Homo sapiens: one gene and its partner. The protein of the gene in region 2 interacts with the protein of the main gene of each other region in a pairwise test. Each region holds a gene or a part of one and is shown on either strand. Other genes may lie near its edges. The genes, in order: BTG3 and MAPK8IP3.

What was found.
Region 1: the proteins of MAPK8IP3 (region 2) and BTG3 interact in a two-hybrid assay, tested with the Homo sapiens proteins (one large-scale study listed by BioGRID and IntAct).

Annotation. Positions count from the first base shown.
Region 1 is NC_000021.9:17,595,759-17,599,581, reverse strand, and holds part of BTG3 (protein BTG3), read left to right. Parts: intron 1-757; coding exon 758-965; intron 966-3,823. UniProt on the Homo sapiens protein: Overexpression impairs serum-induced cell cycle progression from the G0/G1 to S phase.
Region 2 is NC_000016.10:1,747,422-1,751,244, reverse strand, and holds part of MAPK8IP3 (C-Jun-amino-terminal kinase-interacting protein 3), read right to left. Parts: intron 3,002-3,823; coding exon 2,899-3,001; intron 2,644-2,898; coding exon 2,525-2,643; intron 1-2,524.

The DNA of each region.
Region 1 (3,823 bases), on a different chromosome or scaffold from region 2:
CTTGAACACCTGGGAGGTGGAGATTGTAGTGGGCCGAGATTGCACCCATTGCACTCCAGCCTGGGCAACAGAGTGAGACTCCGTCTCAAAAAAAAAAAAAAAAAAATCAGCCAGTGGCGCATGCCTGTAATTCTAGCACTTTGGGTAGCTGAAGTGGGTGGATCTCTTGAGCCTAGGAGTTTGGGACCAGCCTCAGCAACATGGTGAAACCCTGTCTCTAAAAATGTATATAAATTAGCTGAGCATGGTGGTACACTCCTGTAGTCCCAGCCTCTTGGGAGGTTTGAAGTTGGAGGATCGATCACCTGAGCCCAGGAGGTAGAGTCTGCAGTGAGTTGTGATTGTGCCACTGCACTCCAGCCTGGGCAACAGAGTGAAACCCATCTCAAAAAAATAAAAATACATCAGAATGTTTTATTGTACAACCAATTTCATTGGTACATACAAAAATGTAATCAAAACAATGGACTTTTTTTGATGTTTTAAACAATTTTTTTTTTAGGAATTAGTAGAAAGAAAATAAGGGAAAGAAAATGGGGTTATGTTTATGAATACTTAAATAGACCAGAAGTAGAAAACTGTGGTTTGCTTGCTGGCATTGAGCTGTATTAGGATATTAAATGTGTAGGGTCAAGTTCTGTGATGATTCAATCTTTGCCTTGTATTGATGGCATGTCCAGATCTCTTTGTTTTTATGGACATTTTTTGCTTTGCTGATGTGACTTCAAGATTTGTAAGTTTTTAATTTTATTCTTAGGTATGGAGAGAAAAACAATGCATTCATTGTTGCCAGCTTTGAAAATAAAGATGAGAACAAGGATGAGATCTCCAGGAAAGTTACCAGGGCCCTTGATAAGGTTACCTCTGATTATCATTCAGGATCCTCTTCTTCAGATGAAGAAACAAGTAAGGAAATGGAAGTGAAACCCAGTTCGGTGACTGCAGCCGCAAGTCCTGTGTACCAGGTAACCATGAAAACAGCTCAGTTTTAAAGGGATGTGCAGGGATTGCCAGGACCTTTCAGGTAGTCCTACTTGGCATTGCCCAAGGTTTCTGACTTGAGATTCTGGATAATAGTTCTTGCCTTTCCCCATGCTAAGGGAAAGCTGTTTCTCTGGCACGTAAATAGGCATCCTGAGTCATTTTATCAAAGGTCAGCTTCACTATACAATAACTAGGATAAATATATTTCAGAAAAATTGGCAAAAAGTAGAAAATTCATGATGGTAAAACATTCCTGATATTTTAAAATCTCATTCAAAAGTTACCACTTATTTTTTGTAGTATGTAACACTTTGTTTTGTACCTTTGGGTTTAACTTTCTATTCTCTCCCGTTCCATGATTAAAGAGAAACCTCTCTAAATTTATTATATTATAATTAATATTTTACTCAAGCTGAAACATTGTCTCCCTTTTTGCTTTACTAGTTGAAAAGTCATATAGCTAGTGTGCCTGCACTTACAGATCCATTCACTGATTTACTATTTATATCTACATACCAAAGAACATTTAATCGACTTTAAAAAATTGTTGACCAAACAGCATTCTTCAACAGGAAAGATATTTTAAAGTCATAACAATTTAAAGAGATTTTTTGAGTTGAGCCTTATTCTGTAAATGTACTTATTACTAATTTTTAAAGGTTATCTATTTTTACTTACTTGCTTTGATTAAATGTGAAACATACCAGGTTTGTGGTAAGGTTGAGCTGAAAATGAAAATTTAGACCTAATGAGTAAGAAGCAGAATATTGGAGCTTTTAGTATGATAAACTAAACTTTTAAATTCAGCATACATTTACATAATGAACATTATTTCAGTGTAACTTAATTTTTGGTTTTCTCATTTTTTTCTCAGTTGAATTATTCTTCCTAGACTTTAGGGGAAGATTATTTCTGAAGATTATCATAATTTAGGATTCTATGTATATGTGTATGTATATGTATATGTATATAACATGTACCTGGCTTTATGAAACTTCAAACAGTACAAGACAGTATAATAGTGAGAAGTCCTCTTTCTCCCCAACCACCAGTCCCTATGCATTTCCACAGAGACATTCATTACCAGGTTTTTTTTTCTTTTTTTTAGTATCCTTCCAGAGACATTCCCTATATAAATAAGTAAACATAGTATTTGTACTTCAGGATCATTTTTAAAAACCTTGCCATAAATATTTGAGGCATTTTTTTTCTCTGTGTGATGGATTATATATTGCAAATTAGGTATATTGAATTTTCTGGAATTCATCCAAATGTGTGGCAATTTTACCTCAGAATTTTATTTGTTGTTAAGCAAGAATGTAAGTCTCAAATTAAATTGATTGCTGCTAATTTTTTACAAGCAAATTAACCTTTAATTTTTAGGATTTCTTTTAAAATTAAATTGCATTTATTTTCCCTCATGTTGAAAGACTATTAGGATAACAGAAAGGTATGGAAATTGAGGTGTCTCTTACGTGCTTTTTAAGGAAAACATTTCTCCTTGGCCTAATACTCATTAGCAAAACATTTTATAATAGAGAAACACTACTTGTGTGAAAGCTAGTGCAAATGGCCCACTTTGATTTTCTTCTTTCTAGTATCTTGAATCTGGCATTGCCACAAGCTTTAAAAAAGTTTTATCAAATAAGGACAACAAAATTTCTAGCTTGGAATTTTTGTTCTCTACTGTTTTCTAAAAGGTATCCCAAGAGAGGGGATAAAGAATTATTCATATCTTAAAAAACGAAGAAATGAAGATTGTGTCAGTTCTCCTGAAATAGATCTGTAGATCCAATTCAGTATCAATGAACATCTTAAAAGGTTTTTTTCTGGAAAGTGACAAATTGATTCAAAATTTTAAAAAAGGAGGATCAGTTGGAGGGCTCACACTAATTCAAAGCTATTATATATTCATCAAGACAGTGTGGTAATGGTTTAAAAACATACAAATATATTGATGGCACAGGATAGAGAGTCCAGAAGTAGACCCACATACATACAGTTAGTCTTTTTTCTCCCTTTTAACAAAAGTGCCAAAGCAATTCAATGGGGAAAGTCTTCAAGAACTTGTGCTGAAACAACTGGATGATCTGTGTAGGAAAAAAAACGAACCTAACTTAGCTGACACCATACACAAAAATATTGATTTGAGATGGATTGTGTACCTAGACATAAAAGATAAATCTCTGACGCTTTTAGAAGAAAACATAGGGAAATATAATCTTTATTTTGTGACAGGCAAATATTTCCTCTAGAGGGTCACAAAAAGTAACTAATAAGGGAAAAAAATTGACAAACTGGACTTCATCAAAATTAATCATCTTTTTGTTCATCAAAGAAACCATTAAGAAAATGGGCAAACCATAGACTAGGACAAAATATTCTCATTACATATATCTGTAAAGGACTTATTTCCAGAATATACTTTTTTTAAAATCGCTCACAAATCACTAGTAAAAGGTAAATGATTCAATGAAAAATAATGGGCATATCCTGCTGTAATCTCAAAAAAAGGGCAGGAGGAGCAAAAGATGTGAATAAACACTTTACAAAAGGAGTTATGTGAATGGCCTCATTTATGATCAGAGGAATGCAGATTAAATCCATATGAAACACTAGTTCTTCCAGAACTGCACAATTTAAAAGCCTGACAGCATGAAATGTTAGCAAGGATGTGAAGCAGCTAGATTCATAAACTTGCTAGTCATGTAAAATAGTACCACTACTTTGGAAAACTGGAACTTTTTAACGTTAAATGTGTAACTCTTCTATTACTCAGCAGTTCCACTCCTAAGTATTAAATATTTACCAAAAGAAACGAAAATATGCCTATAAAGCC
Region 2 (3,823 bases):
ACTTCAAGCAATCCACCCGCCTCGGCCTCCCAAAGTGCTGGGATTACGGGCATGAGCCACTGTGCCCGGCCTCAGTTTCTTCATCTATAAATGGGGACACTGGCAGGAGGGCGGCTTGATGCTGCAGTAAGGACCGACGGTGGCCGTGCCCGTCAGTGCTGCCACCCACGGAAATGACACCGCCCACAATGAGAAGGGCAGCTGCGACCTGACACTGTGTGTTCTGCGTACACATGTGTCATACCTCTGTGGGCCATGGGCCATGGTGTCTGGTAGGTGTCACCAAGACATTAAAACAATCGGCCAGGAGTGGTGGCTCACGCCTGTAATCCCAGCACTCTGGGAGGCCGAGGCGGGTGGATCACAAGGTCAGGAGATCAAAACCAGCCTGACCAACACTGTGAAACCCCATCTCTACTAAAAATACAAAAATTACCTGGGCATGGTGGTGCATGCCTGTAATCACAGCTACTCACGAGGCTGAGGCAGGAGAATTGCTTCAACCCGGGAAGGCAGAGGTTGCAGTGAGCCGAGATCGCACCACTGCACTCCAGCCTGGCCCACAAAGTGGGACTCCGTCTCAAAAAAAAAAAAAATCATTATAGCATGGTGGGGAGGTTCCCTCTGGTTTTTACTCTCTTCTTGGCATTTGCTGATATTATTTAAATATTATTATAAGCATATATAATTTTTTCAAAAAATAAAAAAAATAGCTAAAAAATATACATTATCGGCCGGGCATGGTGGCTCACACTTGTAATCCCAGTACTTTGGGAGCCTGAGGCGGGTGGATCACCGGAGGTCAGGAGTTCAAGACCAGCCTGGCAAATATTGTGAAACCCCGTCTGCACTAAAAATACAAAAATTAGCCGGGCGTGGTGGCGCGTGCCTCTAATTCCAGCTACTTGGGAGGCGGAGACAGGAGAATTGCTTGAACCTGGGAGGCGGAGGTTGCAGTGAGCCAAGATGGCGCCACTGCATTCCAGCCTGGCGACAGAGCGGGACTTTGTCTAAGAAATAAATAAATAAATAAATAAATAAACATTATCTGAATTATGTAGAGTGGAAGGATAGCAAAATATTAAAAGAGATTACCCCTATTTAGCAGGATTTTTCTGAAGATTAATCTCCTTTGGATTTTTTATATATATTTTTGCAACACATGAGAAAAGTTCCACAGAAAATTCACAGCACCAAAGTGCGCCCTCACCGCCGTCCTGATCTCGGGGAGCATTCCATCTTTCACCACCAAGTACAGTGTGTCCAACACTACTGAACTGAACACTTCAACTCGGTTAACATGGTGAATATTATGTTACTCATACATGGCCTCTACTGGGGCACTTTCTGACTCAAGCCAGGATGAGACAGGCCTCCCTGTCAGGGTGAGGCCCTGCTGGTGCTCAGCACCCCACATTACTCTGCTCCCTGGAGGTCCCCCTGCCCCAGATAAGACAATCAGCTCAGGAGTACACCAGGAGGCAGCCTGGGATCCAGGAGCTTCTCACCCTGCGGGCTGGGGGAAGCAAGGCCATGGCGAAAGGCTCGGACCCTGACGCGTGCAAGGGGACAGACTGCGCTGTCCTACTGCCCGCCTGTCATGCCTGAAAGCCTGGGGCTCAGAGCCACATGGCCAGTGCTCAGCTGCCAGCAGATGCCATGAGCACAGGAGACTCCACGTGCTGACAGGAAGCAGGTCCTGATGTTTGCAGCCGCCACAGACCTAGGCACAGGGGTCCGGTGTAGACCTGTGGCGCTGAGGTGAAGCCAGGGCTGTCTGCGGAGGAGTGGGCAAGTGGGCACCCTCCCAACCTCCTCCAAAGTCAATGGTCCTAGGGTGTGCGGCGAGGCTAATGGGCACAGAGCAGAGAAGCGGGCACCCTCCCAACCTCCTGGAGAGTTGGCAGCCCTGAGGGTGTGTGCAGAAGATGGGGCGAGGCTAACAGGCATGGATTTCTTTTAGGGATGGCGGAACATTCTAAACTGAGATCATGGGGGTGGCTGCCCCACCTGTGAGTACGCTGTAACCCACCGCACCGTGCACTCGAAGCGGGTGAATTTTATGATACAGTCGACCCTCAATACCCACGAGTTCTGCATGTGTGGATTCAACCAGCCTCACAGAAAATGTACAGGCCTGTGGTGGCCGTGTCTGTACTGACGTGTACACTTTTTTCCTGTCATTATTCCCTAAACGACACAGCATAACAGCAACTACTTACACAGCATCTACAACATAACCTAGAGGTGATTTAGAGTACACGGGAGGGTGCAAACACTACACCACTTCAGAGCAGGGACTTGAGAAGCCTCAGATTTTGGCATCCTTGGGGCAGTCCAGAAACCAATCCCCTGTGGAGATGGAGGGACAATTCCATGTGAAACGCAACTCAACAAAGCTGGAAAAAAAAAGGTTCCTAGCTCACAGCTGACAGAGGACTTTCCTTTCATTACAAACAAAACCAACAGCAGAAAGCCCCAGCATTGTGCAGGCACAGCGGTGCGGGGGAAGGCTTGCGCTTACCTAGGAGGTCGGCCCCTTCGTCCACATCCCCGATGACCTCAGACCCTGCCGTCGACAGCTCATGGTACAGGGAGTCGGTGTTGATGCCGAAAGCTTTGTTCACGATGCCCTGGGTTGGGCTGTTGGGATCCACAGGTCGGGAGAGAGAGCAGAGTCAGTGGGCAGCCCGGAGTGGCTGCGTCTGCAGACTCTTCCAACACCTCCCACCGTGGCCATTCAATGCCCACACTGCCCTGCAGGCCGGTCGTGGATGGAGGCGGTAGGCCACAGCCTTGATGGTTCTCCCAGTGGTGGCAGAGGAAGACTTCACCAAAGACACCGACTTGGATAAATACTGAGCCCCCAGGACCCCAGGGCCTGGGCTGAGCCAGTACCTGCTTCCTGTGCGGTCCAGGCGGGTCTCTGGACACATGTCCAGCTCTGGCGTGGAGTCAATAATGTCTTGAACATCAGACCACTCGTCACTGCTGCCCATGCCTAGGGGAGAGCACAGGGGCACCTGGGGTCAGGAGAGGGTCTGGCAGCCTCTGCCCTGCTCACGGCTGCCCTCGGAACCTGAGTCTGGTGGGCTGGAGCTGGACCACCTGCTAGGTGGGGATGATCAGAAAACAGCTCTTCCCAGGCTGACTGGGCAGAGGTCGAACCCCAGCACAGTAGACGTCTGAGGCGGGGCCTGGAGCGGGGTGGGTTGCAGCAGCCTCTCTGCATGGGAGTGTCAGCAGTAAGCCCAGTCCCCAGAGATCCCACGTCCAAGCAAGCCAGTGGCTGGACCTCCTCTCGGCCCTCATTCCCCTCTTCTCTTTCCCTCACTGGCCTGTGTGCCGTGGGGCAACGCAGGTTACTGGTTAGTGGGGCTGTGTGCCATGGGGTGACGTAGGCTACTGGTTAGTGGGACTGTGTGCCGTGGGGCGATGCAGGTTACTGGTTAGTGGGGCTGTGTGCCGTGGGGCGATGCAGGTTACTGGTTAGTGGGGCTGTGTGCCGTGGGGCGATGCAGGTTACTGGTTAGTGGGGCTGTGTGCCGTGGGGTGACGCAGGCTACTGCCTTAGTTGTGTCTCCCCAAATCCATATGTTAATAGATACCCCCTAGCATGACTGTATTTGGAGGCTGGGCCTTTCAAGAGGTGATTATGGTAAAATGAGGTCACGTGGTGGCTCTAATCCAATGGGGCTATGTCCTTGTAGGAGCTGGAGATGAGGACACAGACACACCCAGGGGATGCCTGTTGAGGACACAGGGAGAAGGTGGTGTCTACAAGCCAAGGAGTGGCCGCAGGAGGAACCTACCCTGCCAGCGC